Linked DNA regions of Homo sapiens: regions 1 and 2 are each reported to be linked to region 3. The links are microRNA targets in miRTarBase. Many come from high-throughput screens and were not tested one by one. Region 3 holds a microRNA gene; each other region holds the end of a gene's coding sequence.

The links. Region 3 holds the annotated microRNA hsa-miR-6745 (UGGGUGGAAGAAGGUCUGGUU, at 1,864-1,884, opposite strand). A microRNA usually pairs through its seed, bases 2 to 8, with sites in the 3' UTR of a target mRNA and lowers its output. Matches are read on the target gene's strand: a 7mer-m8 pairs with bases 2 to 8, a 7mer-A1 pairs with bases 2 to 7 and ends in A, and an 8mer does both.
Region 1: miRTarBase lists SLC35H1 as a target of hsa-miR-6745. Seed matches in the 3' UTR shown: 7mer-A1 at 608-614, 7mer-A1 at 599-605 and 7mer-A1 at 539-545.
Region 2: miRTarBase lists BCL2L1 as a target of hsa-miR-6745. Seed matches in the 3' UTR shown: 7mer-A1 at 2,067-2,073 and 7mer-m8 at 1,583-1,589.

Annotation. Positions count from the first base shown.
Region 1 is chr20:46,347,564-46,350,808 of GRCh38, forward strand. SLC35H1 (solute carrier family 35 member H1) reads right to left here. Exons shown (of 10, transcript NM_015945.12): 9 at 3,198-3,245; 10 at 1-2,961. The coding sequence ends at 2,831. Among named protein-coding and RNA genes, the nearest start is that of SLC35H1, 15 kb to the right of the region's middle.
Region 2 is chr20:31,663,232-31,666,476 of GRCh38, forward strand. BCL2L1 (BCL2 like 1) reads right to left here. Exons shown (of 3, transcript NM_138578.3): 3 at 1,227-2,855. The coding sequence ends at 2,718. Among named protein-coding and RNA genes, the nearest start is that of BCL2L1-AS1, 10 kb to the right of the region's middle. RefSeq lists enhancers at 520-1,350, 595-889.
Region 3 is chr11:47,177,752-47,180,996 of GRCh38, forward strand. It overlaps MIR6745 (microRNA 6745), which reads right to left and starts at 1,986; the gene lies at 1,860-1,986. PACSIN3 (protein kinase C and casein kinase substrate in neurons 3) reads right to left here. Exons shown (of 11, transcript NM_016223.5): 5 at 2,704-2,939; 6 at 2,435-2,590; 7 at 1,660-1,835; 8 at 1,408-1,528; 9 at 1,143-1,279; 10 at 615-736; 11 at 1-295. The coding sequence ends at 180. RefSeq lists enhancers at 1-228, 76-125, 206-255.

The DNA.
Region 1 (3,245 bases), not on the chromosome of region 3:
CAGTCCATCACTAGTGTGTGATGCAGGAAGCTGCAGCAAGTACCATGAGGAGAATTCTCTTGGTGCCATGTAACTACTCTCAAGCCACTGGGATTTTCAGGTTTTTCACAGCAGGATAAAGCAGAAACAGATGGAGACAATCCCTTGAGCCCTCAAGGCAGAAAAGGGTACCGGAGTGAAGATGAAGGTATGCCGGGCCCTGCCTGATGGCTCAGGTCCCTCCCACAGGCAAACTGCAGCCCATTCTCACCGCCACCACAACACCAACTGTGGACGTCCTCACATATTGGAGCCATTAACCTTCCTTCCACTGTGGGCCCCTGGGAGAGGTGGTGGGCAGGTAAGCACTTGAAACTCGAACCTGCAGGTCAGTCCTCTCTCCGCCCCTTCTGCAGAAGCCTCGGAGCTGGGGCTGTGTGGGGACAGACACCACAGCCTTGGAGAGACAAGTCACATCCTCAGCTTCCCCTCAACCTGTGCAAGCACCGCGTTGCCATGGTGATGCTGCAGCCCTGAGATGCAATGGCTGCAGACAGCATGGGTGGTTCTAGGGCTCAATGCCGAGGTGGACGCTGTCTGGCCTGGGAGGCCAGGCGATTGGGTGGGCTGGGTGGGGGAGGAGAGGGAGCCCTCCTTTAGGTTCAGCTGGTAATTGCTGCTAAATGAAGGGCTGTCATTGAACCCAACATGTGCGAGGTAAGGGCCCCCGCTCTGCACCTTGTAATTACTGCACCAGACAGCAACGCTTGCTCCCTGTGCTGGGAGGCGGGCAGTGGGGGAGCAGACAGGAAGCTCTCATCCACCTGAGCCAGCGGGGCTCTGGCAGACTCCCCCTGCCGCCCAAGCAGCCTGCATCCCAAGCAGCCTCTAAGACGGAGGAGGCCCTGGCCCCCCTCCTTGGCTGGCTCTTCCCACATCATCCAGCTGGAGCACGAGCCTCCTTTAATCTTGGCCTCTGAGCTTGCGGAATCCAAGGGGGGCAGAGGTGCAGGAGCCAGATAAGAGGCCGCTTCCAAGCGCCCTTGGTGCTCCACCTCCGCCTGCTGAGTCTGTGCTGGGAATCTGAATTAGAGGCAGATCTCGGTCTGACTCCTGAGCACGGAGGCTCTGAGGGCCTCGGGCTAGTCACCGCCCCCTCCTGGCTTCAGTCTCCTGCTGCAGAAGTGGAAGTTGGACTCGAGAATTCTTGAGGGTTCTCCTGCTGGTAAACTTCAGCCAGCAAGCTGGATCCTACTTTTGTAAATGGGGTTTCACTGGGACAGCCACACCCTGGGTCTGTGTCATCTATGGCTGCTTTTGTGCTACGATGGCAGAGTAGCTGCAACAGACGCCATATGGTCCCCAAACCCCAAATATTTACTATCTGGCCCTTTACAGGAAGTTTGCAGACCCATTTTTAAAGTATTAAAGTTCTCCTGGGCTTAACCGAACGAGCTTTAGTGACTCCAACCTGATGGAAACAATTTTAGAACAAGCCCTATCCTTGTCCCCACCCATGGATACCCACTGTCCTCTTCCAAGCACCCCTTTTCTGCCGGTGTCTGGATAGCCGTGGCAGGGCAGCTGGGCTCTGGGAGCCAGTGTGGTGCAATGGCGCCACCTGCTGTGAGTGCCTAGGAGCACTTCGCCTGGAAAGCTTTGTCCCCAAGGGCCGGGGGGGTCTCCCATGGCCCGGGAACCAGTTTACAGGAGTAGACTCAGTCCACAGCACATCAGAGCTGGGGTCTTGCCCCCTCCCTTCCTCATTTGAGAGAGGCCTGCAGTCTAGAGAAGACGTGGGACTTGGCCAAGGAGGAGTGGAAAGCCCAAGCCCCAGGGGCCCATGAAGTTCCAGGAGGCTGTGTGGATGTCACGTGCAGCACGTGCACACACAGACGTACACAGACTTGGATGTGAACCTCAGCCCGGCCACTTAAGCAGCTCTTTATCTTTTCCAGGCTTTAGTCTCTTAGTTGTTAAAAGGATTAAAAGAAATGCTTATATAACATTTAATCTGTTACTAATAATGACTCAATCTTCAAAAGGACTCTGAGATAGACATTATCCCCATTTCACAGATTAAAAAACTACGGCACAGACAGGTTAGGTCATTTGCTTAGGGTCACACAGCTAGTGACAAAGCCAGTATTCAAACTAGGCTGTGAAAACATGTAAGGTCTCCAGAATGCAGTACTCAGTAAACATTCATTTATTTCCTGCCAGCAGGTGCAGTGGGGCCCCACTGGGGAGGGGACTGGTGTTCTAACAGGAGCGAGAAAATGAAGGAGGCCTGGCTTAAGACCAGACATTTGAAGAAGGCTCCAGGCAGGGAAAGGAAAGGAGAGGCCAGGCCCACACTGTCCCCTCCCTGCCCCCACGTCTCCAGCAACACAAGGCGGCCAGTGGACCGTGAACCATTTATTTCCAAACTATAAAGAAACCTGCTCTCTGAGAAAAGACACTGCCCAGGTGATGAAGCTCCAGCCCCTGGAGGTCCAAAACCCAGTCCAAACTCAGTCCCTTTAGAAAGCTGCTGTGCCTTGGAAATGAGTCTCGGCTGTCAGAGCCTGGGAAGTGGTGGGAAGAACCAGCCCACTCCCCTCTCCTGCTGCGATTCCAGCGCAGCTTGGGCCCAGCTCTGGCCAGTCCCAGGCTGGCCTGGTGCTCGCCCCTTGTGTGACCAGGCTCTGAAGGGAGGGGCAAAAGTCATGAGTCCCTGGCTTGGCCCCACCACCTGGTGACTCCCGTCCACAGCTCCCAGCTACCATGATGAGCCCTGGCGGCTTGAGCACAGTGAGTGCTGGCAGCAGGCTGGGGAGTGGCCTGCTTCTAAGCCATTTGCCCTGGCTGGTCACTGCTGCCCCTGGGCCACAAAGTACTCCTCCTCCTCATTGTCACCTTCCTCCCGCTGGCTGCTCCGGAGCAGCAGCTCCAGGTCGGGGCTGGAGCCCAGCCCCTTCAAGGCCTTGGGGCCACCATCACCTTGGGATAGAGAGAGACCACAGTTACAGGCCCAGTCGTGGTTTTCTTGGTTTGCTCTGATTTGCATGTGTGCTGAGTCACCCAGGCCCCACCCACCCACTCTGGAGATGACCCCCACATCTTCCTAGAGGAGTGACGGCAGCAGAGCCACCGGGCACACTTCCTGCATCAGAATCACTAAGAGTCACAGGGAGAAGAACAGAAAACAGAGGCTTCTGGAAGGGACTCTGGGTTACCTCTGGAATGCAGGGCTTTGAGGGCAACGTGGAGGGATATTCCCGAGA
Region 2 (3,245 bases), not on the chromosome of region 3:
TGTCGCCCAGGCTGGAGTGCAGTGGCGCGATTTCGGCTCACTGCAAGCTCCGCCTCCCGGGTTCACGCCATTCTCCTGCCTCAGCCTCCCGAGTAGCTGGGACTACAGGCGCCCACCACCACGCCCGGCTAATTTTTTTTTGTATTTTTAGTAGAGACGGGGTTTCACTGTGTTTGCCAGGATGGTCTTGATCTCCTGACCTCGTGATCCGCTAAAACACAGAAATATTACTGTAACCTTCCTCTGCTCTACTGTGTAGAAGCTGGCCACAAATTCTCGGCTGGGCATGGGGATCACTGGAGGCTAGGTGTTCGAGACCAGCCTGGGCAACATAACAAGATCCCCATCTCTACAAAAAAAAATTTGAAAATTAGCCAGGCTTGGTGGCACTCACATGTAATTTCAGCTGCTCAAGAGACTGAGGCAGGAGGATCACTTGAGCCCAGGAATTTGAAGCTGCAGTTATCTATCACACTACTGCATTCCAGCCTGGGTGACGGGGCAAGACCCTCTTAAAAAACAAATAAATACTCTGACCTATGTCTTGTCTCCTGTACAGGAGAGGAAGGAATGCTACACAGAGGCCAAGAAGAATCTGGACTGGCCTTGCTGGGTTGGCTAATTTAAAAATTTTTTTGTAGAGACAGGGTCTCACTTTGTTGCCCAGGCTGATCTTGAACTCCTGACCTTAAGCAACCCATCCCCCACCCGCAAAGTATTGAGATTACAGGGTGTGAACTGCCACTTTGTTTTTCTTTTGTTATAGGAATGTCAGTCACAGAACCTTCTGATGGGTGAGGAAAGGCATCACACCTTTCCCCCACACCCTACAGCAGCTAGAGCCGTGCTTATGTCTGTCTCTTCCACTAGAATGAATGCTTGTAAAGGCAAAGGTTTTGTTTGAAGAAGTCCCCAGTGCCCAGGACTATGTCTGTGTAGAGCAGAGCTCAGTAAACACTTGCCAAGTGGCTGTGTCTCCCACTAGAATGTCAGCTCCTGAGGGCAGAGACTGTGTCTGTCCTGTTCACATGCAGCCCCAGTGCCCAGCACACAGCATGTACCCAGTAAAACCCTGTCACCGTACAGGTGGATAAATTCAGGCCCAGAAGGAAGGAAGGACTTGTCCAAGGCCCTCCCCTGAGGGCAGCAGAGCCAGGACCAGTACCCAGCTCTCCAGCGGCCCCTCCTTTCCCCATCCCGGAGCACACAAGAGCCCAGGCTCTTTGTTCACTGAGTAAACACAGTTTATTACTGAACTGCACTTTCACCTTCACACAGACTATTTCAAAGAGCTGGAACAAGTGTGGGGTGGGGGTTGGGGGAGGGGCAGATGCCCCTCAGGAGCCAGGACCCTCGGCCAGCTTCCCTGGACCAGGGCAGGGGAGGGAGCATCAGGCCGTCCAATCTCCGGGCACCAGCTCTCCACGTGCACGCGCACTGCAAGCCAGCAGCTCCTCACACATAAATACAGACACGCTTAACAAAAATAGTATATCATCTTCACAAGGAATAAAAACTAGTCTCAAATATGTACAGCAGAGAGCCCGGGGTGGCTGGGACCCCTGGGGATGAGACAGGCCAAGGGTGGAGCAGAAGAGAGAGGGAGGCCTGAAGAGCTCCTGGCCAGGCCACTCTGGCCTTGGCAGCCTGGCTGCCCAGGCTGGACAGGCATGGGGCACAGATCTGCCTGGCCAGGCAGGACTGGCCCTTCTAGTCAGCCCTACCCCACCCCATGCAGCAGGCTCTCCTTCCTGCCCTTCCTGCCTGAGGTAGGGAAGACCCTGGGGCTCCCATAGCTGTTCCTGATAGCTCCCTTTCACCTCAGGGCTGAGTCCCCTGAACCCACCATGAGGAGCAGCCCAAGGCAAAGATGCCACAGGCTGCTCTTGTAGGAAGTGAGGCAGCTGAGGCCATAAACAGCTCTGGGGCATCTGTCTTGGGCCCAGTTGGTCCCTCAGTATGGTCATGGGAGCCAGGGAGGGGAAGGGACTAGGGTGGTGCTGAACTGCAAGGGCCACCCTAGCTTTGGCATGGGGTGCTTCCTGTAGCTATAGCCCCCTCCCTCCTGGGTGGGGCTGGCCTCTAGCCAGAGGCTTCTGGAGGACATTTGGACTGGGAGTGAGGACTCTAGCCAGTCCAGAGGTGAGGAGGGAGTCCTGGTCCTTGCATCTTTATCCCAAGCAGCCTGAATCCCTAGTCAAAAGTGGCCCCTAAATGGCTCTTAGGGGGTAGGGATGGAAGGAAAGGGAACCCAGGTTAGTGTGGGGAGAGTGGGGGGAAAATGATCAATTCTGAGGCCACAAACATCAAAACAAAGGCAATCTAGTCTCCTTTCTGGGGAAGAGGTTCTGAAAACTTTCAAGCTCCCTGGCAGAAAAACATTTTCAGGGAGGCTAAGGGGTAAGGGTTGCACCAATCAGGTAGGGCCCTCCTGCCCCCAGCCACAAACCCTTCCATACCTGCCAGCCTCCTTTGGACAGATTTTGTGGAAATTTTGTGAATTCTGAGGCCAAGGGAACTGAGGTGTGGGGGTCTCACAGAAGTGTGATAAATTCTAGAAAACTAGCTGCAAGGGACCAGATCTGGGCCCAACCCTGTGATGGGCAGGTGGGCATGGGCTGCATGTAGTGGTTCTCCTGGTGGCAATGGCGGCTGGACGGAGGATGTGGTGGAGCAGAGAAGGGGGTGGGAGGGTAGAGTGGATGGTCAGTGTCTGGTCATTTCCGACTGAAGAGTGAGCCCAGCAGAACCACGCCGGCCACAGTCATGCCCGTCAGGAACCAGCGGTTGAAGCGTTCCTGGCCCTTTCGGCTCTCGGCTGCTGCATTGTTCCCATAGAGTTCCACAAAAGTATCCTGCAGGGAGAGAGAAGGAAGGTGCAGTTTTAGTCCTCAGAGAGTGATGTAGGTGGGTGGGGAAAGGGGCCATCTGCATGCTATGGCCTTGGTGATGTGAAAAACTGTAGCCATCTGTGCCCACTCTGGGCCAGGTAAAGGGCTAAGGGTGGTCCTCTTTCTTGACCCTCCATTGGTGATAATCAAACCATGTTACTGCTGAGAAACAGGTAGAGAGGAGGAAAGTGCCCTGTCTGAGGTAAGTCAAGAAGTAGCACTTACTCCAGAATCCAAGGTGGGAACGAGATGGGCAGGGTCAGGGAACTGATGGAAGCCAGGTGGCTGGAGCAGAGTGCAGGAGAGGAGGGCATGGGGGAGATGATGGTGCAGGGGTGAGCAAGAGCCAGACCA
Region 3 (3,245 bases):
CTACCAGTCCCTTCCCTAGACAAAGGCCCCTCCCCTCCCTGGGTCCCAGGACTTCCTCCCTCAAGGGACAGAGGAGCAGCCAGAGAGCGACGGTTCAGGGCCCTGAGGGTCCGGCTCTCCAGGAGAAGCTGGGCTCTGAACCAGGGTGGGTAAACGTTGCAGAAGGGCTGTCAGGACACTCAGGCGCCCACACACTCCACGTAGTTGGCAGGGTACAGGCCAATGCGGCCACTCTGCAACTGGCCTTGGCACCAGCCCTGCTCGTCCTCCTCACTCATCTTCAGCAGCTCCTCCCCTGGGGGAAAGGGGATTGGTCACTGCCAGTGGCCCTGGCCCAGGCCCTGTTCCTGCAACTGGGTCAAGGACTGAGGGGGATGGTGTGGTCCCAGAGCCCAGCTAGCAAAGACATGGCTCAGGCAGAGGCAGGTCAAGGTCAGCAAGCTGCCCCACCCCAGACCCTGAATGCAGCCACCAGGCACCAGCTATCTGGACCTGGAACAGCTGAAGGGACAGAGGACTGGCCCTTAAGAAGTGGGTATTTGGCTTCCCTTTCTGACACCCCTGCTCAGGCAGATAAGGCAGAGGCTGAAGCTAGGAAAGGGGTCCCAGGGTACCTGCTCGGAAGCTCAGCTCATCAGCTTCCTGGCCAGCGTAGTCATAGAGTGCCCTCACCCGAACCCCGGTGGCAGCCTTCCGGGGACTCTCTTCATCTGACCACTCCTCATCCTGCCCCGTGCTGGAGAGGGGAGGCAAAGGGAGCAGCTCAGAGTGCAAGGAACACGGGGCTGGAGATCTCACCCAGGATCAGGGCAAAGGCCTCCCTACCCCCAGAGGCACCTGGGAGAGTCAGGTGAGGTACTAAAGATTCTAGCTCTACCTCGCCATGCCCGACTGTGAGCAAAGAGGCAATTCCTGCCACACGCAGCTGATTTAAGGCATAAACGAGAGGGAATGTGGGAAATGCCCAGCAAATCTAAACCACTATGAGAACCAGTATCATTACAACTACTAAGTAGGCCCTCAGGTCCCTGGCACCAATTTTCAACCCATTTCAGGTGTGAAAGAAATGAAACCAAGGAGAAAGGAAAGGAGGGCGGGAGGCAGAGCTGTTTCTTTGCCACAGCCGCGCTCCTGGCTCTCACCCTGGGGACCCCGGGGACTGGGGTGGGGGTGCGGTGCCATCTCTTGTAGGCACAATGCTGGTCAGGGTAACCTCATCAGGGCTCCGGCCACCCTTCTCTTTCCGGCTGATTGTCCTCTGTGTGTCCAAGGACCACTCCTGTGGGGACAGTGCTTATAGTCAGGTGGGGCCATCTGAACCACCTTCACTTACTTCATCCCTAGCCCTGGCCGAGCTGAGTGGGAGCCCATCCCACCTCCCATCCCCACCCCGCCTGGAACACATGCCTCGAACTGTGGCCAGTTCATGGCCATGCCTGGCCCGTGGGTGCTGCGCCACCAGCGCAGATCCTCTTCGTCACTGGCTGCCTCAATGCCCTGGTGCAAGTCACGGTGGAGTTCATGGAACCTATGACCCAAGGCACACCCCTCAGTCTAGGAAGTCTAGACCCTGCATCCCTCAGTCCCAGCCAGGGCCTCGGGGAGATGGAGGAGACCCAGTACTACCCCAGATCTCCATGCCCACCAGGCAGTTCATACTTCTCACTGCTGGAAAGGTCCAGGTGCTGGTGTAAGGTGAGCAGCATATCCTTGAAGAAAAGAAGCCGCTGGCGCTCGGCGGCCTGGCAGGTCTCAAAGGCCTGTTCCATGTCCTCCATGTAGCGTGGAGTGTAGCGATGCAGCTCTGCCAGCGTCTGCTCATACTGAGCTTTTGTCTGGGTGGGAGAGGAGGGGCCTGGTGAGAACCAGACCTTCTTCCACCCAGGACTCCACCAGTGTTTACCAGACACTGCCATAGGCTGCTAGACCCAGGGCTAGCCACTAGGGGCAATCAGTCCCAAGACCCAGCTCCTGCCCTCAAGGACCCCAGCAGCCTAACAAGGGAGGTGACATCAGGCACAGCATATAAAAGAGTCTGGTGAGGATTGAAATGAGGTCAACCTACAGGAAAGGATGGGAGAAATCAGAAAAGGCTTCCTGGAGGAGGTGGAAACTGCAGCATCTCAGGATGGGGAGGATTTGCATATCCAGAGCTGCAGGAAAGGACACTTCGGGCAAAGGGTACTGTGCAAGGAAAAGAGCTGGAAGTTCTCAACTGCTGAAGTCATCCCAGTGCCTGAAACTCCATTTCTTTCCCTAGTAAAGCATCACCTTTTGTCAGGTTCCTCCTTTAAATGATCATCTGGAGAGAGGGTGGCAGGTGAGGAATAGGGTAATAAGGGTGCTGGGGACTGGACAAGATGTTCAGGGAGCAAGATTCATTCAGGAAGCCGTGCCCTGGGCGGGGGCCAGGGCTGGGACCTGTGGCCTGTACCTTCTCGGCCTCCTTGGCACAGCGTTCCACCCGTTCCTGCAGTTTGCGCAGCTGCTCCTGGGAGACGGCGCTGTCTGCCTTTGCGTGGCTCTCCCTCGTCTGGGCGGTCTTCTCATCCTTCCGGGCTGCGTGGTAGCTTTTCTTGGAAGCCTCAACCTGGCATGCATGGAGACCACTCTGGACCCTGGATGCCACACCTTGGCCCCCTCGATCCCTTGCAAACAAACAGGAAGGAGCCTGTCTCGGATACCTCCCCCACCCAGCCTCACCTCCTTCAGCCTCTTCAGCCAGGGCTTCTGGGCCTTGCGGAAGCCGTCCTCGGCCGCCCGGCTCTCGCGGAAGCCGCCCAGCACAGGCCGGTGGAAAGCCCCCCGCTGCCAGGCGCGCACCCGCTCACTGTCCTGCCCTTGCAGCTTCTCCCGCACCTCCAGGTGCAGCGCGCTCAGCCGCTCAGCCGCCGTGAAAAAGGCATGCCAGGCCTTCTCCAGTGTGCCATACTGGGGGCCTGCAGGGAGGGACAGGGCTTAGGCCAGGCCTGGGTACCACCCAAAATGAGCCTAGCCCCTCTCACTGGGTGTGAGGCATGGAGGCATGGGGTACGCGCATGGGGTGCAAAGGTGAATGACAACCCTGTCAGCTGGGCTTATTGAATGAGGACCATGTGCCTTATCTCACTGACTCCTTGTCTCAGCCACCATCGTGAGGACAGCGACATTGCCAACATTGAACAGGCAAAACACTGAGGACCAGAGATGTGAACTCGCCCAAAGCATTATGGCTACAACAGGAGCTGAGGGCCGGGCACAGTGGC